Regions from separate parts of the Homo sapiens genome. Here all the other regions are linked to region 3. The links come from fine-mapping of genetic effects on gene expression. A gene starts in region 3. Each other region holds a variant in brackets. All regions are shown on one strand. Distances are from middle to middle. Region 1 has its middle 53 kb from the start of ST8SIA6. Region 2 has its middle 54 kb from the start of HACD1. Region 3 holds the start of ST8SIA6 (ST8 alpha-N-acetyl-neuraminide alpha-2,8-sialyltransferase 6).

Evidence for each region. PIP is the estimated chance that this variant, and not a neighbour inherited with it, causes the effect.
Region 1: its variant is fine-mapped to the expression of ST8SIA6 in whole blood (TOPMed, PIP above 0.99). The same link has a PIP of 0.9 or more in T cells and blood mononuclear cells.
Region 2: its variant is fine-mapped to the expression of ST8SIA6 in pancreatic islets (PISA, PIP 0.95).

Annotation. Positions count from the first base shown.
Region 1 is chr10:17,503,081-17,511,265 of GRCh38, forward strand. No RefSeq gene overlaps it. Among named protein-coding and RNA genes, the nearest start is that of ST8SIA6, 53 kb to the left of the region's middle. The variant G/C (reference allele first, on the strand shown) is at 3,530.
Region 2 is chr10:17,559,292-17,567,476 of GRCh38, forward strand. No RefSeq gene overlaps it. Among named protein-coding and RNA genes, the nearest start is that of HACD1, 54 kb to the right of the region's middle. RefSeq lists an enhancer at 3,359-3,653. The variant C/A (reference allele first, on the strand shown) is at 3,410.
Region 3 is chr10:17,451,521-17,459,705 of GRCh38, forward strand. It overlaps ST8SIA6 (ST8 alpha-N-acetyl-neuraminide alpha-2,8-sialyltransferase 6), which reads right to left and starts at 3,075. Exons shown (of 8, transcript NM_001004470.3): 1 at 2,635-3,075; 2 at 2,039-2,137. The coding sequence starts at 2,735.

The DNA of each region.
Region 1 (8,185 bases), 52 kb after region 3:
TCATTAGAAGCTGGAGGAAAGCAAAATCATTTTGCCTAGTGGTGAAAGTCTGGCCACACTGTCACATGTGGTAATGTGAAAAAAACAGAAAATGTTGGATGAAAAATGTGGTACATATACACCCTGAATACTACTCAGTCATTAAAAGGAATGAAATCATGTCTTTTGAAGAAACTTGGATGGAGCTGGAGGCCCTTATTCTATGGAAGTAACTCAGGAGTGGAAAACTAAATATCGTGTGTTCTTACTTATAAGCGGGAGCTAAGCTATGAGGATGCAAAGGCATAAGAATGATGTCCTGGACTTTGTGGAGGAGTTGGGAGGTTGGTGAGGGGTAAAAGGCTACATATTGGGTACAGTGTACAGTGCTCTGCAGATGAATACTCTAAAATCTCAGAAATCATCACTAAAGAACTTATCCCTGTAGCCAAAAACCAACTGTACTCCAAAAACTATTAATAAAAAAATTAAAAATACACAATGAGAAAATGATAATTACAAAAAAATTTTAAAAGTAGAAAATATGCTTAAGGAATTTGATGATCTAGCTAAGCAAATTTCCCCAGAAAATATTAAAAGAGCCACTTGACTTTTTCTTTCTGTCTGTGATAAAATGCAAGAGAAGAGAGATGAGCTCAATTCTTGACCCAAAGAAGCTGCGAGCATGATAAAATGGTCATTTTCAGCTACCAAGTTTTGGGGTTATTTTTAGCACAGCAGTAGTAACTGGATCAACACCTCGAAGGATTATCGAGAGGGTTAAATAAGACATGTACATAAAGCAACGAGCATGGTGTTTGGCAAAAGAAATGCTCAATGAATGGATCTTAAGGTTAACTCTTCGACTGATTTGGCTTTGCTTAAAACATTTAGCATGGCACTGGAGTGTGCAAGAGGTGCTTAACATATGCTCGTTGACTTGAATTGAGGACAGACTCGAGGACAGAAAAGATGAGTTTGCAAAAAAAACCCACAATCTTATTTTCCTGACCTGAGACGGAATTTTAAAAATATTATTAGAAGTTGTATTCTTGTTACAGTCTATGAAATTCTAAAATTTATCTTGGGAAGAGATCAGACTATACAATTCATTTAATCCTTGCCTTTTCAGCTAAGTCTAGAGTAATAAAATTGTAAATGCCTGGGTTTGGTGAATAATAGTTAATTTGGGCCCAGGCATGGTGACTCAATCACATAATCCCAACACTTTGGGAGGCCAAGGTGGGAGGATCCCTTGAGCCCTTGAGCCCAGGAGTTCAAGACCAACCATAGGCAACATGGTAAAAACCCATCTCTGCAAAAAATTAGCTGGGTGTGGTGGTGTACATCTGTAGTCCTGGCTACTTGAAGGAGGGGATGCTGAGATAGAAGGATAGCTTTGAACCTGGGAGGTTGAGGCTGCAGTGAGCTATGATCATGCCACTGCACTTCAACCTGGGTGACACAGTGAGACCTGGCTCAAAAAAAAAAAAAAAAAGTTAATTTGGGAAATGAGGGGTCTTGACTATCAACTGTGGATATGGATATTGCAGTGGTCCACATCTGATTCAACCTTCACTGCAACTATAAAGTTAGTGAGATTTTCTCCCCTCTCATTGAATCTTACACATCCTTAAACCCTTTCCACAATCTAGCCTCATGCCCATCGTCCTCTGTCCACTACTGTAACCTACTACATCCCATCCTGCAGAGTCAAACACAGGAAGGAATTTTTATACTTAAAGCGTTTAAAAATTTTCCTGGAGACAAAAACCCCACTTAAAATATGGCAGTATATGAATCACAAGTATGAAAATCTCTTACTATAAAAACAGTCACTAACTTCTCACATACTTTGTCACAGTTGGTGCAAGAGACAATGCACTGCGACCGATGAGGCTTGCAGGGTCCCTAATCTGTGAAGTCTTCACTTCTCAGGAAGGAGGCCAAGTGACCACTGCAGACAGCTCACTTAGAAGGAATTTGAAGAGTTCAAACTCAAGCAGTAAAAATGCATTCTGATGCCTCTGTTGCATGTCTGATAAATGGTCTTTCTCTCATTACCCAGTGAGAAATCTTGTCTAGAAACTTAGCTCTTCTTGCACTAACGTGCTGTCTTGCTCCTGCTAATGAACTGCTTGGAAAATTTCAACTTCCGCCTTGAAACCCTGGTAGTGGCTGGAGTCCTCGCTAACTATGACAGACTTCTCTAACAGTTCACACTTAGGGCTCCATAAATTACTTGTGCCAGCAATCTCCATCACCAAGCCAGACCAGTGTTTCAGAGCACTCTAATACTTTCACCAGACCCCCTAATTAATGCTTGCCCACTTGGCCAATGGTATCCCTTCAGAACATCTGCCTTTACATAGACATTTCCTGGCATCTGCCTTACCTGTTGAATGAGACTAGGTTTATTCTGGCCAAGCAAGTCATGTGGAATCAAACAATAGTAACGTGAGGATGAAAAGCTTCCCTGTTATTTATGTATTTATTATTTCAGAGACAGGGTCTCACTGTGTCATTCAGGCTGGAGTGCAGTGGCTGCAGTCATAGCTCACTGTAGTCTCAAACTCCTGGGCTCAAGTGATTCTCCTGCCTCGACCTCCCAAAGTGCTGGGATTATAGGTGTGAGCCACCATGCCTGGCCGCTGTTCTTTAAATGGTTCTATTCCATAGCTATAAAAAAACAAATTAAATAAGCAAATTCCTTTGCTCCTTGAACTTCTCCTTTAGAGAAGCAAAAAGAGGTTTCAAAATATCTGTAAAATGAGGTGAAAGGCCATACCTTTCTGTCATCTGAATAATGATATTCCTACTGAGAAAAGGGCAAATAGTAAATAATTTCTTTTCATACTAAAGATATATAAAACATGGCTTTAAAATTTATCTCTGCAATACTGACCCAAAATTATTTTGGTGCTAGGGAAAATATTTTCCCTAGAACTAAAATAATAACAAAAGGCAGGGGAATAGGCCGGATACAGTGGCTCAGCACTTTGGGAGGCCAAGATGGGTGGATCACCTGAGGTCAGGAGCTTGAGATCAGCCTGGCCAACATGGCAAAACCCCGTCTCTCCTAAGAAATACAGAAAAAAAAATATTTGCCGGGCATGGTGGCGAATGCCTGTAATCCCAGCTACTCGGGAAGCTGAGACATAAGAATTGCTTGAACCCAGGATGCAGAGGTTTCAGTGAGCTGAAATCATGCCATTGCGCTGCAGCCTGGGCAGCAGAGTGAGACTCTGTCTCAAAAAAAAAAAAAAGGAGGAGAATAAAAAAGATAAAAAAGGAAGAAACACTTCTACATGAAGACTGATCTCCTACCTGTTTTTAATTCAAGAAGCACTCTCTGAGGAGAGGGGATGGGGAAAGAAGGATAAACCATTAAGGTCCATCGTCCTATTCCATTAGGAGAAAACTCTGAGAGATAATGAGACAGAAAGGCTCGACAGGTTTCCCCAAGGACAAAGCCAACTAGTTGCTTCAAGCAGCAGCTCCAGAAGAGCAACTATAAATTTCTTAGATCTCACACCCATTAAAATTCTAG[G/C]AAAAGGAGGCTAATTTTGCAAGTAGTCAGCTCGAACTTCCTGTTATGTGTGCCTCTTATAAAATGACGCGAAGAGGATTATATGACAGGAACAGTTGAATAGCTACAGCAAAGTTTCCAGGTTCTCGTAAAGACTATGTAAACAGATTCATCTTGAGAAGTCTACAGTTTTTTTGTTTTGTTTTGTTTTGTTTTAAATAATTAATTAGATTTAAGCACAAAAGGAACTATTTAAATAATTACCAAAGGTACTACCAATGCTGTTATATAAGTGATATCTCTGCTGCATACCCACTGGTACTGCTATGCCCTGTCGAATATGTATAAAAGAGGCATATTATCAAGAGAGGACTAGCTTTTGTAGATTGAAGACCCAGTGAAAATGGGAAGTAAATCTCTGGCCAGAGTAGTCAAAGTAATTAGGAAAGGAGAAGAAACAAGATGTTTTGACCACCAGTGAGGGTGATTAGGTGCAATGGTAGATCATTTCCAAAGATGGTTGCCAATAATTGCCACAGTCCCTGAATGTGCAAGCCACTCCTTTCATCAAGATTCATCAATCTATCTCTCTCCCCCTTGAATCTGGGCTATGCTGTATCTTGCTTTGACCAAGAGAACATAATGGAAGTGATGGGACATCACTTCACCTAGACTTCTAAGCCAAGGCCTTAAAAGAACTTGTAGCTTCCACTTTCGCTTTCTTGGAAGCCATTTATTATAGGCTAGACTATAACATGGTGAGAAACCACATGGAGACAGTGGTCTATGCCTGTAATTCCAGTGCTTTGGGAGGTCAAGGCAGGAGAATCGCTTGAGGCCAGGAGTTCCAGGCCAGCAAAACCCAATCTCTATAGAAAATAAAACATTAGCTGGACATGGTGGTGTGTGCTTGTAGTCCCAGCTACTTGAGAGACTGAGGCAGGAGGATCACTTGAGCCCAGGAGTTCAAGGCTGCAGTGAGCTATGACTGCACCACTGCACCCCAGCCTGGGCCACAGAGCAGACCCCTCTCTCTGAAAAAAAAAAAAAAATTTAAAAAGAAAAGAAACAGAGGCCGAGCCAGTCCCATCACCCAGCTGAGGTACCAGATGTGTGAACGACCAACCTCAACTTGAATGTTGCTGCCTCAGCAGAAACTAAATGCAGCTACAGGAGTGACCATAGCACGCACTCACTGGAGCAGAAGAACATCTCAACTGAGCCCAGCGAATTATGAGAAATAACAGTCTTTAATAATAGATGGAGAATTGAAATAGGTTCTCTGTCCCCAGTGACAATGAAGAGCTAGTTTGACAACATATGTGCCTTGATTGGTGAGTAGACCAGATGTGTGGACAAACTTCTGGGTAAGTCAGTGGCTTCCTGAAAGATGTGCAGTTTATTAGTCCATTTTCATGCTGCTGATAAAGACATATGCAAGACCGGATAATTTATAAAGAAAAAGAGGTTTAATTGACTCACAGTTCCACCTGGTCGGGGAGGCCTCACAATCATGGCGGAACGCGAAAGGCATCTCTTACATGGTGGCAGACGAGAGAAAAACGAGAACCAAGTGAAAGAGGTTTCCCTTATAAAACCATCAGATCTTGGGAGCCTTATTCACTACCACAAGAACAGTATGGGGGAAACCATCCCTGTAATTCACCTCCCACCAGGTCCCTCCCACAACACATGGGAATTATTGGAGCTACAATTCAAGATGAGATTTTGGTGGGGACACAGCCAAACTATATCAGGCAGTAAAGCGGTATCCATCCAAGCCACCAGAACGCCATTGCCAGTTCTGACACGATGAAGAAAGAGCAGACAAACTGGGATTGAGTTGAAGGGTTTTCTGAACACTTCCAAACTTAGACCGTATGGCAGAATCCCAGAAAGCTGAACGATACAACACAGAAACAATAGCTCATTCCTGTTTGCAGGGTTTGGGGGAAGGGACTAAAATGGCAGTCTTTTGAAAGGTGCAAGGAATACAGATAGGTGACGGGGGAAATTGATACAGAGACATGAAGGCAAGCAAAGCTAATAAGCCAGTCATCAGAGGGGCGCTGGGGAATCTCTGGGAAATCTCTGGAAATACACGGCAGAATGACGCAAGCCACTCGAAAAGGAAGCCAGAATGAATGACTATGTTCATGCATATGCAAACATGTATACATATGCATGGACGCCGATGGTTTTCTGGGAATGCTGCAAAAGGAGTAGAATGTGCCCCTTGGTATATTCCAGGAAACTGATTTCCCAGGGAAGGCAAAGTAAGAAGTACATGGAATAGGCTGGGTGTGGTGGCTCACACCTGTAATCCCAGCACTTTGGGAGGCCAAGGGGGTGGATCACAAGGTCAGGAGTTCAAGACCAGCCTGGCCAAGCTGGTGAAACCCCATCTCTACTAAAAATACAAAAAATTAGCCCGGCATGGTGGCAGGCACCTGTAATCCCAGCTACTCGGGAGGCTAAGGCAGAGAATTGCTTGAACCCAGGAGGCAGAGGTTGCAGTGAGCTGAGATCGTGCCACTGCACTCCAGCCTGGGCAACAGAGCAAGACTACACCTCAAAGAAAAAAAAAGTGCATGGATTAAAGTTTACAGGTGAGGTCCACGGACATTTTTGGTGAAACCGAACTCACAAGCTGTGATCATTGCCAACTAAGCAGTCAGACATGAAGCAATCTTATCTCAAAACTGCAGAACATTTCCTGACAGAAAAGATACACACAAGTCTAATGGATGGGAAGCTTTGCAGTGAGAAAGCCACATCTTCTCACTTCTGCATGGCACACCACTCTATGGGCTAGTCAAGTGACAAGCTGATTAATGCATCAGAGTTCCCCAGAAACTGCTAAGACACTGAAAACTGTTTCATGAGAACACAAATTTTATTCAGTAATGAGACTAAATATAATAACTGAGAAGAATGTTATTGCAAAATATCAGGCAAATGAATTATTGTTTTCATGACAAAGGTCTTCAAAGCGACAAGAGAGAGATTGTATATTAAGCAACTTTAGTAAAATATTCTGTATGTAATGAAATAAAAAAATTTAAATTGGGATTTGCACATCCTTGTTTTTGTGTCTAGATCAGGTTCTTGAAAAACCAACTTAATTGTGTATATAATTGATATTTATTAAAGTATAGATTTTAAAATATTACCCTATTAAATTGTTCACAGTGTTGAGGCATTTCCACTGCTTTGTTGTCAAAAACACACGTCTAACTTCTAATAATTCCTTAAAAGTTTCCTTAATTTTATTTTCCCTTCTATATTTCCACACTAGTGAACAAATTCATTTGGTAGAAATGGTATTTTAGAGATGATATTCAAGTACGTATTATACTTGGATGAAAATAAACAAAGTAATGATGACTTGTTTTTGAGTCTTTCAATTTTTTCATTCTTACTGTGGCTAGAGTACGACTATTCTAATAAAAACATCCTGTTTTAAAGAATCAAAACATAGCAAATGTATCACATTATATCGAGATTTGAATTTAAGATAATGAAAATTATTGCAAATAAAATAACAGCTTGTATTTGGCAATCTGTAGCCAGAGACTATGATATGACAAATAAAAATATTTTTAATCAGAGAAAAAAATATTGGAAAAGAATTTCCTTCTGTTAGCACAATTAATTTATAAAATGCTGGTAAATATCTACCCTTTACAGTGTGACGCTATCTATAAAGCTTTGCAGTTATTTAATTCATAAAGCAACTCTCCTTTTACAGGTAGCAAAAAAGAGATACTAAAAAACTGGCCTGTGGTCTCACAACCCACAAGGAACTTGGGACTCTAAAGTTGAACCTCTCACAGCACTAACCGCAAACAAGAGTTTTGGTGGCCTTTGTGATACCAGAGAACAGCTTCTCTTTTCTGTTCTAGTGCTTCAAGTTGACAGTGTTGCTAATGATTTAGGATCAAGATCATTAATTCTACACATTTTACTACATTAAAAAAATTTTTTTTGAGACAGGGTCTCACTGTGTCATCCAGGCTGGAGTGCAGTGTCACAAATACAGCTCACTGCAGCCTTGATTTCCTGGGCCCAATCAATCCTCCTGCTTCAGCCTCCTGTGTAGCTGGGACCACAGGCACGTGCCAACATGCCCATCTGATTTTTTTTTTGTAGAGATGGGGTCTTGCTATGTTGTCCAGGCTGGTCTCGACCTCCCAGGCTCAAGCGATCCTCCTGCCTCAGACTCCCAAAGTGCCAGGATTGCAGGTATGAGCCACTATGCCCAGCCCATTTTTGAAATAACATATGGAAAGCAGAGTTATGTTAGCAAAAATTCTTAAATTTGTAATGCCAACATTTCAGCAATTCTTTAGCTGGGGAAAAAAAGAAGTACTAATAGTGCAAATTCTTGGTTAAATAATTTTAACTAGCAATAAATTATCATTGTATAATATTTGAAAAAAGAAGGGAATGTTAAAAGACAATAATCCTGCCCAGAGACATCGTACAAAATTTTAGCAGCTGGATAGAAGTATTGCTGTTTTGCAGTGAGCCTAAGGGATTATTTGGTCCAGTTCCCATCTTCGGTAGCGAAGGCATTTTTTATCCAGTAAGGTTAAGTGACTTATCCAGATTGCGTGGCCACTAAATGGTGGAGAGAAGACAAGAACCTCAGTCTCTTGCTTCTCCACGTACTTT
Region 2 (8,185 bases), 110 kb after region 3:
ATATGTCTCATTAGCATCTTAAATCTCCACACTGGGGTGTGTTTTTTACTATTATAATGATCAAAGGGTGAGTTTGAGGACAGGTAAAATCAAAATATGTGTGCACTCTCGAGGAGAAAGTCCCTACTGAAGATAACTTTGCTTGAATGAGCTCAACTACAATGCAAATGCTGAGGCTTATTGTGTTGACTGTACAGTCACCACGGTTGCTACGTCCCAAGAACGTGGTCATTTCCTTGACTACCCATCTTGCCTCAAATACATTTTTTGTTTTTAGATGGAGTCTCGCTCTGTCGCCCAGGCTGGAATCAAGTGGCATTTTCTCAGCTCACTGCAACCTCCGCCTTCCCGGCTCAAGCAATTATCCTGCCTCAGCTTCTCCAGTAGCTGAGATTACAGGCACGCGCCACCATGCCTGGCTAATTTTTGTATTTTTAGGTGAGATGGGGTTTCACCGTGTCAGCCAGGCTGGTCTCGAACTCCTGACCTCAAGTAATCTGCCTGCCTCGGCCTCCCAAAGTGCTGGGATTACAGGCATGAGCCACCGCACCCAGCCATGCCTCAGAAACATTTATATCCTTATTTTTCCCTTCATCCCCTTTCCCTACTCCTTCCTGGCCTCTGGTAACCACAAGTCTGCTCCCTATCTTCATGAGTTGCACTGTTTTTAGCTCCCATACATGAGTGAGAACATGAGCATCTGCTTTTCTGTGCCTGGCTTATTTCACTTAACATAATGGCCTCCAGTTCCATCCATGTTGCTGCAAATGACAAGATTTCATTCTTATTTATGAAATAAAATTCCATAATGATATTCCATTGTGTATATATACTACATTTTCTTTTTTTACTTTTCTCTTTTTTTTTTTTTTTTTTGAGATGGAGTCTCACTCTGTCTCCCAGGCTGGAATGCAGTGGCACGATCTCGGCTTACTGCAACCTCTGCCTCCTGGGTTCAAGAATTCTCATGCCTCAGCCTCCCAAGTAGCTAGGATTCCAGGTGCCTGCCACCAACCCCCCACTAATTTTTGTATTTTTGGTAGAGACGGGGTTTCACCATGTTGGCCAGGCTAGTCTTGAACTCTTGACCTCAAGTGATCTGCCCACCTCCAGCCTCCCAAAGTGCTGGGATTATAGGCGTGAGCCACCATGCTGGCCTGTGTATGTGTATATATACTACATTTTTTTCATCCGTTCATCTGTTGATGAGAGGCTTCTTTCTGGTGGGGACTCCACAGAGTCCCAGTGGGGCACACGGTATCACATGGCCAGGGGACTGAGCACACCAACGTGCTAGCTCAGGTCTTTCTTCCTCTTTTTGTAAAGCCACCAGCTCCCCTCCCATGATAATCCATTAATCCATTAATCTGTGATGGAGAAATCCCTTCATGAGGGCCGAGCCCTCATGATTGAAACACCTCTTAAAGGGCCTGCCTCTCAATGATGCCACCTTGGGAATTAAATTTCAACCTGAGGCCAGGCACGATGGCTCACGCCTGTAATCCCAGCACTTTGGGAGGCCTAGGCGGGTAGATCACCTGAGGTCAGGAGTTTGAGACTAGCCTGGCCAACATAGTGAAACCCTGTCTCTACTAAAAACACAAAAATTGGCTGGGCACAGTAGCACGCATTTGTAGTCCCAGCTACTCGGGAGGCTGAGGCAGGAGAATCGCTTGAACCCGGGAAGCAGAGATTGCAGTGAGCCAAGATGGGGCCACTGCACTCTAGCCTGGGTGACACAGCGAGACTCCATCTCAAAAGAAAAAGAATAAATTTCAACGTGAGTTTTGGAGAAGACAAATGTTCAATATTCAAACCACAGCAACCTTTAAGAACCACACTAAATAAAGTAAATCCTTTTTTCAAATAACAGCTTTTCCACTCTTTGAAGAAAGTTGAAATAGGAATGCCAAGTCCTTTCTACCTTTGTTCTTTTCACCATTCCCCAACTTGACTTATTGCCTTTACTGCAGAATTACAGAATAAATGCCAACTCATACTTACTGATTCATAAATTCTGCAGCATGGGCCCCTGCAGTCTGTTTCAACAAGCCCTCTGGATGATTCTCACACATGTGAAAGCATGAGAACCACTGGTCTGGTTCTCTTTGCTTGATCGTCTCTCCATGGTCTTTAAAACTATGATTTTTGTCATTCATCTGCTTGCTCTAATTGTTGCAGCAGAAGCTATGACCTGCTGCTACTTACCGACTTCTGTATAGAAGCAAAAGTTTTCTGTACTTGTTCTTAATTGTTAGCATGGTATAAATGCAATGTCGCTATTTGGTAGCAAATATTATCTCCCTTTATTATGACACCAACTTTTTTTAAGGAAACTTTATTGTCAACCATGTGGTTTGGGTGACATAAATTCCATCTCTAGCCTCAGAAATGGACCCTGATTCGCACAGCCAAATTATTTCATGCACTCGTCCACAGTAATTGGTTCAAGAGCAGATACACAAACTCACTGAATCCTGCGGTGTTCGAGGGTTTCTGAAGAGAGTTGTTTTCCCCACTTCCACTGGTTTTAATGGAGGAAGGACATGTTTGAAATTGGACTTCTTTTAACTAAACCGAGGAGCCTGAAACCATCACTGGTCACTTTTTTAAGGCCTGAAAACATAGCCCACCCTGCAGTAGAACAGAGAGGTGGGATGCATGTGACATTATTTTAGCACTGAAGCAAGCGACTCCTGAACCCCACTCTACCTATGAAAATTTAATGTGCAAGAAGAGCGACCATCCGGTCACTGTAGTAGAGATGGGGTTTCACCATGTTGGCCAGGCCGGTCTCGAACTCCTGATCTCATGATCCACCCCCCTCGGCCACCCAAAGTGCTGGAATTACAGGCATGAGCCACCGTGCCTAGCCTTAATTTGCATAAGGTCTTTAAAATGCAAGAACAAATGTTTGTGATGTCCGTAGAAGTAGTAGAGGTGGTACCACTTGTAAAATTAAAGGTTAAGGATGACAGTTCTAATTTTTATTCTGTTCGTCCATGCGACTTAAACTTTATTCACATTTGTAACCTTAGATGTTAAATGGAAATAATGTTCACGACCTATTGCATTCGGTCACAATGAAGCAAAAACTACGTATTATAAATCACAAGATTAAAACAAATTACTATCTGCAATCGGCCAGGCTACATTTCCTATCCTGACACCTGAGGTTCGTAACATTACCTTGGAGGAGCCTTTTGGTACCTTTAAAAAATGGCAGTATGACTCAAAAGTGTGAAGTTGCAAAACTCATTATTTTAAGAGCATGATCCTAATATAGTAGCACAAAATAAACCCTTACCTTTCCTTTTCTGTGACACAGCTGTCATCTGGGCTTTGACCGTGGCTGTTAATTTAGTCTATGACTACTTAAATTCCAGCTGAGCCAAAGAAACCGTAGTTC[C/A]TTAAAGTCCATTTCTCAATTCAAACAACTGCCAACCACACAAGCTGTCCCTGCAATTAAGAAAATGTAAAGTGATCCCCCACAGAGAGGAATGAAGTCAAGTCAGAAGCTAGGCCAGCAAATCATTTTCGTCTTACGGCTTCCCAGAAAAGCTTTGGCAGGGGACATGACCAGACCATGAACTATGATAAATAGATGAAGGCTTGTTTGTGTCATGCCTCTATATATTCAGCGCCCGAAAGAACATTTTTCCCTGGACTGTACTAGGTTCTGGATTCCGTCCAGATTTCATATACTGCCAATATTTCTGCGGCAAGCAAATTTTATATGATAAAGAAACCCAAAGAGTTTTAGGAAGGGTCACAACATTGGGAATATCAAGTCGACACTGCTTTACTTCTGAATTTCCTTCATTATAAATTCAAATAGGCTTCAGGAAGCTTTAATTCCACTTTTCAATGCATACTTAAAACTGAGCTATAAATTTCTTTGCACTCAAAGTAATTCCTTTTTTTGTCTTTCAGCATGAAGAAATATGAATTCTATACACAATTACTGCAGTGTTTATTCAAAAAGTCACTTATCCTGTCTTCCTAAGAAGCAAAATTATTGTATTAAACACCACACTGCTACCTTCCTGACAGCATTTTTATGTGTCCTTAATTTTAATACCTCTCTAGGTTGTTCGCTTGATTAGTTTTAGGGAAAATATGAGAACCTGAATTTAGTTCACTGCCATTGATGACTCATTTTGCAACCTTGTTTAAATCAGATATTAATAATCAAATACAACGTTGTGCTCCAACAAGTCTGACGATTCAGAAGCTGTTTGGAATTCATGAAATCAATACACAAATATAGAATCATTATTGCTTTGCCAAATGAAATTTAATAGGAGGGCGTTGTTTTGGACTGAGCTCCTGCACTAAGCCCCAACAAACCAGAGCAAACCAGAATGGAGTCAGTCATGCTAAGTACCACATAGTCAAACTGAACTTTAAAATGGTTTTCCAAGGAATAGGAAACTCACCGCAGCCAGTCAAAAGGAGCCTAGTCACCCTGAATAGGCATGATGAGAAAGTTCTCTCAGCCTGAATCCTAGAAGTAGAGTAACTTGGAAATGACCAGTTGGCTTTCTGTTCCCTGTTTCTGCTTCTGCAGCTCTGTATGCCTATAAAGCCCACCTCCTCTGCTCAGCCCATTGGAGGGTCTTTTCTATTTCATAAATGAGATGCTACCTAATTCATGAATTGCTAATAAAAGCCAATTTGATATTTTAACAAAATATGTTGAAATTTTGTTCTTCAACAGCATGAACCCCAAACAATTTAGCAGCTCACAGCTTTACTAGCTCTATCTCAGTCCTCCACAATCTCTCACTACTTTCATTTGTCCATCCCCACCTCCTCATCTTCCTGCCACAGTCACACAGACACACACGCTCAGCTGTTATTTGAGAGACTGAAATCAAATCAACTGAATAAGGAAATTGAACGCAAACTTAACTGGTTGATTCTTTTTTTCATCATATACATTGTTCCCTCATCTCTGTAATACCTTTCAACTACCTACTGGGCAGAATTGATGGAAAAAATAAACATGTAGATCAATGGCATAAAATACAAAGCCCCATATAGATCCCTCTAAATGTGGATTTCTATAGTTTCAAATTATAGAGAGAGACATCACAAAGCAAAATATAATCAGCTTGCATATGCCAAAGCACGTGTGTCCACTGCGGAGGGGGTGTTGGAAGCCCATAACTATAAGGAACCAGAGAGAGGAAGAAAACTTGCAGGAGAAGCAATAGATGAAAAATAAATGTCCCTATTAGATAAACAGCTCTTTGAAATTTATTTTTAAAGCATCAAGAATTCCATAGATGCAAACGTTGAAAAAAACGGTCATCTTAGTAATCACTGTCAATGCAATTCTTTGTTTTGTTTTGTTTTGTTTTTTTGTTTTGTTTTGTTTGAGACTGAGTCTTACTCTGTCACCCAGGCTGGAGTGCAGCGGCACAATCTCAGCTCACTGCAACCTCTGCCTCCTGGGCTCAAGCGATTCTCCTGCCTCAGCCTCCCAAGTAGCTGGGTTTACAGGTGCACGCCACCACGCCCAGCTAATTTTTGTGTTTTTAATAGAGACAGGGTTTCATCATATTGGCCAGGCCAGTCTCAAACTCCTGACCTCAAATGATCTGCCCGCCTCAGCCTCCCAAAGTGCTGGGATTACAGGCATGAGGCACCACATCTGGCCATGTTAATGCGATTCTAAAGTACCATTCTATACTTTCCTGGGCACCAGCATTGTATATAATTTGTTTTAGCTATGCAGCTATGTTTTTGCCAGTGGAACATCCATGAATACTACTTCCACATCTGGCCCATAAAAACTGCCTGCATGCAAATTTGTGTGTCTCTTCTGCTGTGCTAGAGTGATAAAGACAGTCATGTTGATCTTGAAAGGCATATGTTAAAGACAGCATAGCCATAAGATAGAAGGAGCCTAGGTCCCTGGATCCACTGCACGGAGGTGGGTTATACGCCCATCCTTTTTGATTTTATGTTAACCTGCTGAGACTTCTGGATACATTGGTTAAAGTAGCTAGCTTTACTCTACTACCTGCTTTTAGTTTGAGGAGTTCCTTTTTTTTTTTTTTTAGATGGTGTCTCACTCTGTTGACCAGACTAGGCTGTAGTGCAGTGGCATGATCGTGGCTCACTGCATCACTGCTGCCTCTGCCTCCCAGCTTCAAGTGATTCTCATACCTCGGCCTCCGCAGTAGCTGAGATCATAGGTACCCACCACCACACCCGGCTAATTTTTGTATTTTTAATAGGGATCAGATTTCACCTCGTTGGCCAGGCTGGTCTCAAACTCCTAACCTCAAGTAATCCACCTGCCTCAGCCACCCAAAGTGCTGGGATTACAGGCATGAGCCACCACGCCTGTCCTAGTTTGAGGATTTCTAATTAGCTTTAGCAAGAAATGAGAAGGAAACAAGTTGGAACGCAACAGGAAAGAAAATCTCAAGTTAAAATGTTGTAGCCCCCATACAGAAAACCTTGATTCCATTCTTTCTCTTTCAATATAAACTCTTCTATTCTCTTACCTGTCATCTCCCTTCTTCCTGATTAGACTTCATTTTTTCATCTAAGAAAAAAACTTCATAGGTTTGGTTTCAAATTATCATATCAATAAACACTGAAAATACCCTACCCAATATCATAAAGAAAAACAGAATTATTGATTAACTACTCTACAGCCAATAACAGCAGGTTTCTCTTTGATGGATACATGTAAACTATCTCATAGCCCAAGATCAAACCAAAGAAAAGAAAGTCTGAGAGCTTATGGCCATAGGATGCATTCATATGTCAAAATTTAGTTGTTGTTGTTGTTGTTGTTTTTGAGATGGAGTCTCCCTCTGTTGCCCAGGCTGGAGTGCAGTGGCGTGATCTCGGCTCACTGAAACCTCCACCTCTCAAGTTCAAGTGATTCTTCTGCCTCAGCCTCCCAAGTAGCTGGGATTATAGGTATGTGCCACCATGCCTGTCTAATTTTTGTATTTTTAATGGAGACATGGTTTCACCATGTTGGCCAGGTTGGTCTGGAACTCCTGACCTCAAGTGATCCACCCACCCCGGCCTCCCAAAGTGCTAGGATTACAGGTGCATTTTTTTTTCTTTTTTTTTTTTTTGAGATGGAGTCTCTCCCTGTCACCCAGGCTGGAGTGCAGTGGTGCAATCTCGGCTAACTGCAACCTGCGCCTCCCAGGTTCAAGCAATTCTCCTGCCTCAGCCTCCTGAGTAGCTGAGACTGCAGGCACCCGCCACCACGCCCAGCTAATTTTTGTATTTTTAGTAGAGACGAGGTTTCACCATGTTGGCCAGGACGGTCTCGATCTCTTGACTTTGTGATCTGCCCACCTCGGCCTCCCAAAGTGCTGGGATTACAGGAGTGAGCCACCGCACCCGGCCCAGTCGCACTTTCTTGATGCATTTTTACAAGGGCAAAAAAGGGACAGACTCACTCCTTCCAGCCCTTTTATAAGGACACCAATCCTATCCAGTCACCTTCCAAAAGCCCCACCTCTTCATACCATCACCTTGGGCTTTATGTAACAATATAGGAGTTTTGAAGGGACTCATATGCAAACCACAGCATTTTCCCCATCAAACTCCTTCAGAACCCTATGCCTTTGGTCAGGCTGCTGTTGCCTCTGCCCAGCACAGAAAAAAATTTTAAAAATAAACAAACATCTATTTATATTTTGTGTAAATAAAATCTACGTAATCCCTCAAGACTCAGCTCCAGCCTGCCCTCCTTTGCAGAGTCTCTCCTGAGTTAATTGGCCCTCTTCCGTACTCCAATAGCATATTCGCAAAGCACTTGACATGTACATTTTTAATTGCAAGTTGATTTGTCCTTTAAAAAAAAAAAAAGACTGTAATCCCCTTGAGAGCAGGAACAACCTTTTATGCCTTCATGCCCAGAGCACAGTGTTGGCATATGGATAGTTCTTTAATAAAGTTGTTATATGGCTTAGTGAATTCTGTAGCTTAACAGCTCTTTTGAAAAATCATGCCAAAATCACTTGTTAACCGAACCCCACACCTCAAAAGTTTTTGTTTTGCTAGAAAATAGTTGAGTAGCATGGTACTAAGGTATGGTAGAGAGTAGATTTGTTTAGACTAGGTATTTTTTTCTGTTGCCAGTTACAATTTATAGTTTATCAGAAATTCTCATCAGGTGCTATGTTACGAACAAGTGTTA
Region 3 (8,185 bases):
GGCAATATATCCATGTAACAAAAATGCACTTTACCCCCTAAACCTATTTTGAAAAATTTTTAAATTAAAAATGTCAAGTGCTTAGATCAGTGTCTGGCCCATAAGAAGAGTTCATTAACTGTTGGCTCTCCTTATTCCTACCAGCATTATTACCATGAGGCTCATGTGGGAAGATCAGACCAGCTCCAGAAAAATGAAGAAATTACAATTTCTCTATACAACCAAGTAGTATGGTGGATTAAAACTTGCACCCCTGCTCCATAAATAACCAAAATCATAAATGATAAAGGGGACATAAAATAAATCAAAACATAAAGAGGCTTTTACAAACACAGAATGGTATAAATTTTAGAAAGCTTAATAAAATGGGCCATATTCAGAATTATGAGTTACCTATATTAGCCCAAGAAGTATGCCAAGTAGAAAAGAAGTATGTCAAAAGAAAGTGAAAAATTCATCAAAGATTACCTCTAAAAACGACCTGAGATCAAACCATTTAATGAGTACATTCTTTCCAACTTTCCCCAAGGGTCAACCCTCGAATGTGTAATAGCCACAGGACTCGGGAAAAGATGGAATGCTTCTCAGCTCATCAAGAAAGCTAGGCTACCTATAGTACACCAACCTGAATAGAATAAAACTATAGGACACTATTTTTCTCAAAAGCTTTTGTTACTCCAGGAGGTCCTAGTGCCTCTAATATGCTGTGAAATTCCAATGAGGGGGTGGCAGGCAGTGGTGTTCCTCAATTCAGGGTTTATCCAGCCACTTCCAGACCCTTCTTAGAGCCGTGCTAGAGCTTCCTGGAGTTACACCATCAGAAGATTAAGGTGGATCCAAGAGCCAAGAATATAGAGAAGCATACGCAGAAGAAAAGGGATTTGCAAGAGATAAAAAGAGGAAAAGAGACCGTATAGCAGATTGCAATCATAATAGCAATGCTAAGGCAGGAAGCAGTACATTCTGCTTGTGAAAATGTAAATTGATTCAGCCCTTCGAGGAAGCAACTGACAATGTGACTTAGAATCTAAAGAGTACATACTCTTTGACTTACTAATCTCAACTCCTGTCTGTCCATCTTGGGTAATTAATTTGAAATGAAGATAAAGATTTACATACAAGGATGCATTTCATAGAATTACTGATGGCAAACAAAATAAAACAGAAACAAGAAGCAACCTAAATGTCTGAAAATGGAAACTATTAAATAGATTATGGCATGTTCAGATAATAAGTTATGCAACAATCCAAAGCAATGTTTTTGTGGGGGGAGGGGAATGTAATGACAGGTATAGGTCTAGGATTTTTAGAAAAAAGGCAGAACATAAACTGCAATGTATAATCTAAGTTATATTTTTGAAATATATGTATATAGAAAAGACTACTGGAAGAAATATAGACCAAAACCACCTTGAATATGGTCTCTGAGAGGTAAGGACTCTGAATGAATAACATTTTCTTTTATACAGTTCTATTTTCTAACTTTCTGCACAAAGCTGTATTACTTTTACAATCTGAAAAAAAAACAATTACTGCCTATGAATAAAAACACATGTGAATGATAAGAAAAAAAATTTAAGCCTCCAGTCACTAAGGACAAAATCATTCCTAGCACGCAAAACAAACCTGAATCTTAACACCGGTGCCCTTTAAAGCATAGAAAAGAAAAAGCAAACCAACCAAATCCCTCCATAAAGACAGGCTGAGCTGCTTCTCTCCAAAGGTGGCGGGGTCGGGGGCGGGGGTGCTTTCAACACACCATTGTCGAGAGGAAAACTCAGCACCCGTTTTTCAAATGCAGCTGCTGGAGGATCCCCCTTGATTCAAAGACCATTCACATCCAGGCTTAGAGGGTTGAGGGAGTGTGAAGGGTGCCCCCCCCCAACCCCGCGCCCTCTTCAAACACACGCACACTCTTACACTCACTCGCGCCGTCCCAGCCTGCCTACTCCCAACGAGTCCAAGCCGGTGCAGCCGCGCCCCATGCCCGGCTCGCAGCTCCCGAGCCCCAGTCCGCCCGCGCTGGGCGCCGCTGTACCTGTTAGTGGCGCGCGGTACCGCGGTCGCCGGGCTCCGGAGCGTCCTCAGCGCTGCGGGGGTGCCGTGGGTGGCCTCCCTGCTTTCCTCCACCAGAATCCTGCACAGCCGGGGAGAAAACTTAAGTTGCTACACCCCGCCGGGAGCTGTTGGCTGAAAGGCTGGGAGTCGCGCTCCTTGCCTGGCAGGGAGATCTCGCACTCCCCGGCTCCCAGGCCAGGTCCCCAGCCCCAGAGTTGGAAGAGCCTTAGGGCGGGAAGGAAGAGACAGCAAGGACCAGAATGGGGAGCATGAGATCCTGATGCGGAACCCGACGGCAGGTCCCGCTCCACAGCTGCCTCGCCCACAGCGATGCGCGCTAGAGCCCCCGCAGCCCTGACCGGTCCCTCTGCTCCCCAGCCGCCGTCCACCGGTCGGAGGGTCGCCTCCCTGCGACCCCCTCCCCCACTCCACTCTCAGGCCGTCGCCGCCCGTGGGCTGCTCCCCGCCGCGGCCAAAAGTCTCCGCGCCCGAGGGGAAGCGATGGGCGGCTTGGGGGTCCGGGGGCGCCAGGCGGGGCGCGCGGCGCGGGGCGCGGCCGGCGGGTGGGTGGGTTACCTGGCGCGGCCGGGCGCGTCTGCCGGGCACCAGAGCAGGCGCAGCAGCAGCAGCAGCAGCAGGCTGGCGAGCAGGGCGAGCAGTGCGCCCCCCGGCCGCATCCTGAGCCACAGGCGCCGCCGCCACCGCTGCTGCCGGGGCGAAGCACAGCCCGGGCGGCCCCGACTCGCGGCTCCCGCCGCCGCCGCCACCGCCGCCGTGGCCGCAGCCCCGCGCACCCACAGCGTTCACAGGCGGCAGCGAGGGGCGCCCGCAGCCCACCCGGCAGAGTCTCCGCGGCGGGCGGAGAAGAAGCCGCGTTCGGGCTCGCCCCGGGCTCCCGGCCCCGGCCCGCGGAGCGCCGCGATCGGCTGGCAGATGACGATTCGCCGAGCTCGCCGCCTGTCCTCCCGGAGGCGCTCGGAGCTGCTGCGGGCTCCGGTCGCCGCTGCCACTGCTGCTGCCGCCGCCGCCGCGCGGGGTCACCTGAAGGTTGGGGCGCGGAAGCTCAACTCCGTGCTGATTGGGCTCCAAGTTTTCTGCGCCCTCGCCTCGTCCCGAGTGCCCGCGAATCCCCCGGACGCCCACGCAGACCACCCAGCCACACCACAACTCTGCCTGCGGAGAGAGGAGAGGAGAAAAAGGGGCCGCTTCAAAAACTTTCAAAACTGTGCAGTCGCTTGGCTGGATCCTCCCACGCATGAAGAAAGCTGGGGACTGGGGAATTGCTGGGTGGATCATGACACTGAACAGAAGCAGTAACCTGTGCTTACTTCAACCCAGATTCAGAGGGACAGCGAACTGGTATGAGGGGCTAGGAGACCTTTAGGCATGAGCACATTACTACCTGGAGACCCGTTTAGCCCCTGCCTGTATTTGCAAATAGTTTTATTGGAAAACCTCCATGCCCATGGCTTTGTATTATCAGTGACTGCATATGGCTGTATGATCTAGGGCTGCAAGGGCAGAATTGAGTAGTGATGACAGAGGTGGCATAGCCCACAGGGCCTAAAATATTTACCATTTGAAACTTTCCAGGAAAAGTTTGCATACTGCTCTTAAATAAGCAAGAGGCCATTAGCTTGAGGCTGTCTCTGTACGTTGAGTTCCCACCTAACAATGGAAACCTACATTAGGCTGTAATGAACAGGGGGCTACTGGCCAATCATGGGCAACCAACTCATTATACCAGGCCCCACAAGGCAGCCTGCATAGCTATAGCCAATCAGTTTCTCCACTGTGCTTCTGAGTTTGGCCTATCAGGCTTTGCTGCTCACACCATGGGGTGGACCTCACTGGACCTCCTCTGGTTGTGAGTGCTGCCCAATTCATGAACCCTTTGCTCGAATAAACTGTGCTAAATTTAATTTGTCTGATGTTTTTCTTTTAACACTGCTATGGGCTGAATGTTTGTGTCTCTACAAAATTCATATGTTGAAACCCAAATCCCCAATCTAATGTGGTGGTATCTGGAGGTGGGGCCTTTCATACCTGATTAGTTCATGGGGTGGAGGCTTCCTGGTGGAATTAGTTCCCTCATAAGAGCAGGCAGCGGGGAATTTGCCTCCTCTCTCTCTGCTCTGTGCAGTGTAAAGACACAGCACGAGGGCAGCTTTCTGCCAAGCAGGAAGAGGACCCTCACCAGAACCTGACCATGCTGGCACACTGATCTTGGGTTTCTTACCCTCCAGAACTGTGAAAAATAAATTTCTGTTCTTTCGGTCACCCAGCCTATGGTATCCTTCTTATGGCAGCCAGAACTAAACCACGGTCTAGATCATATTGGTTAGTATCTCATTTACGAGTATCTCATCTGTTGCAGGAGAGTGATCCAATGACACTATGAAACAGACTGGCTCTCTATTTTTTTAAAAGTGGGTCTCAACTCTCTATGCCCTAAACTATCCTGACTGCCCAAGCCCCCACTTAGCCACTTCCCTAGGTTTTAATTCCATTGTGGTTATATGCAGGCTTATAAAATTATTCACTCTTACTTTTGTATAGTTTCGAGATTTTTCCAAATGCAACCCTTGGATTCCACCATCTTGGGAGTACCTTGATAAGATCTTTTGAAATGACTTCAATTTTGAAAAGGCTTTCATGAGTTAACTTTCCCAAGCAACAAAAATATGATATTTCAACTGACATCTCCTAGAAGCATATGGTCTTCACCTGAAAGAGGCCCAAGTGAGAGCCATTTGGGAGCAACCAGGCCAGACAGCCAAATAAAGCTGTCACCAAAGATTCCATCACAAGAAAACATATATCAAGGCAAGAGATACCAGTGTCCCTAGTCTCTTTCTGCTAATTCCGGATTTACTCTAAAAACATCTTGTTGAATACAAAACAGAAGTTTGCACATAATAATTGATCAATAAATGTTTAGTCAATGAATAAAAGCACATAAGAACTAGTGTTATTTTTAAAGAGAAAATGGAGCAAAAAAACTAAAAATAAATGTGACTAGGAATGTGATTTCCTTCTATAGCTCATCACTGCTGTTAATATATGTACTAATCAGGAATAAAAACAGGCTTCTACTTTTATATAAAACTAATATTTGTAGGGATTCAGTTGCTTCATCTGAGTATGACATAAAGTAATGCTATACTCAGGTAGTGATAGAATAATACAGAAATCTAGTTCTACATATTTCAAAGTTTAAGCCGTTTGTTAAATAAGTAGAATATGGCACAATCATCTAGAAAATGAAGAGTTGCCTGGATTTGAAAGATATTCCAATTTTTATCTCAGTGCAGAAAATTGTGCAGAAAACTAATGCTGAACATGGTTTGCAGAAAAAGAAAAAGGCATTATTGTATCAGCCAGGAAGCTGCAATTTCACCTAATTTACTAAAGTTTAATATTTCAGCACAGCTGGGCTCAAGGCAACAGCAGAAGAGTCAGCCTTGCACTGGGTTCCCTAAACACCCTTGCTGCAAATGAAGTTACTTTTTATCAAGCCAATGGCTATCAGCAGGGGACTCACAAAAGCCCATTTTAATTGGAAAAACAAGTGTAAATTTGCAATGGGAATTCTGAGCCCAGTGTTAAAATTTGACAGTAGGGAACTTTACCACAAGCTTTCTAATTTAAGACCTGGGTGGGTAAGATATGAATTATCTTGCTCATCCTTGAGAGAGAAAGAAACCTGACAAGAAAATGATACCTTAACATTATTAGCCATAGAACCACTACTGGAAAAGTGTGCATTTGGTAGCTTAACATTTCCAGGCTTGACTTGCAACCCTAAAGATCTATGCCATGTAGTAATTTGAAATGCTGCTGAGGCCAGGAATTGAAACGTAAACTCAGGTTGACATCCGGATGCTGCTCCCAAGCTTGTGTAAGTGGCGAGCCTACCTCACTCACCCAGTCCACTCCACATGGGCCTCTCATTTTGTCTTTGTTATTCTTTATTCATCATCATGAATGTCCTTACCTTCATAAAATAACTTTTAAAAAATGATTGGGAAGTTTCGATATATAAAAAGTCTCCAGGCCTATGGAAATCTTGAAAGTTGAAGTTTCTGATTTGGAGTGTAAGGTTTCTTATTTGGCTAACAAGTGACTTTCCACAAAAAAGATGATTCAGGGGAAAGCTAGAAACGTGTAAGATTTCCATAAGTGTGGATTTGGGGATTCAGAAAGATGAATCACAAATATCAAGAGTCTACCTGACATTTGATATATACATAATATATATGTATATACACTATATACATAATACATAATGTACAGAATATATAGCATTATATACATATTGTGTATACACATTATGTATACACATACGTATTATGTATACATATTATGTATATATTATATACATAGTATATACTACATATATACATAATATATACTACATATATAATATATAATGTATATATACACACTAGATACATTATACTATATATGTATGTATATATACATTATACATTATGTATATATATACTATGCATATACATTCCATATAATTATGCATATGCAAATTGTTATATAATATTATGTATATATATTATGTATATTATATTATATTGTGTATATACATGATTATATATTATGTATATAATATAAATGTATAGAAACTATATATACATATATTTGTTTACATAGTATGTATATATACTGATAGCTATAATGTATCTCCATAATTTTTTTCCTTATATTGAAGATTCTTACTGATATATAACAGTGAATGAGTGTACATAGATATGCTATATCTCTACATAGATTATGTGTATATATACACACACTATATAAATAAATATGTGTATATAGAATGCATATACATGTATACTATGTATATACACACTAAATACATAGCAGATACAAATATATCTCACTGGTATATATGAACATCTTCAATATAAGGAAAAAAAGGAATGCTGTGAGAAACGCACAAAAAATTGATGCACCAAAGACTCTTTTCTTCATTCGGGAGACATTTTTACCTCTCTGTTTAGAAAGGATGATTTCTGATGTTTCAGACTGCTTGACTGGTTTTTGTAACGTTAAAGATTTGTGAGGACTACAGGACAATAGGTCATTTATAACATTAAGCTATACCTTGGGGAGGACGTTTATAAGACTATGATAACCAAGACTACATATTTTCTTTTTTTTTTTTTCTTTTTTTTTTTTTTTTGAGACGGAGTCTCGCTCTGTCGCCCAGGCTGGAGTGCAGTGGCGGGATCTCGGCTCACTGCAAGCTCCGCCTCCCGGGTTCACGCCATTCTCCTGCCTCAGCCTCCCAAGTAGCTGGGACTACAGGCGCCCGCCACTACGCCCGGCTAATTTTTTGTATTTTTAGTAGAGACGGGGTTTCACCGTTTTAGCCGGGATGGTCTCGATCTCCTGACCTCGTGATCTGCCCACCTCAGCCTCCCAAAGTGCTGGGATTACAGGCGTAAGCCACCGCGCCCTGCCAGACTACATATTTTCAATAAGTCATAGGACATAAGTAAAAGTAGAAATGACTTGAAAAAATCAATGACCTCAGTATCTCTCCAAATATGTCTTATTACAGATTTTTGACCGCTGTTAGTGGAATATTGAAGATTGGGGGCCAGGCGCAGTGGCTCACACCTGTAATCCCAGCACTTTGGGAGGCTGAGGTGGGCAGATCGCTTGAGCCTAGGAGTTCGAGATCAACCTGGGCAATATAGCAAAACCCCTCCTCTATAAAAAATACCAAAAGAAAAAAAAACTAGCAGGGCATGGTGGTGCACACCTATGGTCCCTGCGACTCTAGAGGCAAAGGTGGGAGGATCACTTGAGCCCAGAAGGTGGAGGTTGCAGTGAGCTGAGATGGCACCACTGTACTCCATCCTGGGTGATGGAGTGAGGCTCTGTCTCAAAAAATAATAATAATAATAATAAAGTAATTCTATGCATAAAGTAGTTTTAATTTAAAGAGTATAACTAAAACTACGGGACTAAATATGAGAATTATTATTCACTTTATAAAATAGATTTTTAACATATAAACATTCACATTTCCTAAATCCCTCTCTTTGGAATGCACTTAAAACACTATAAAGGACTAAAAGGGGAAATGCACACTATTTATTAA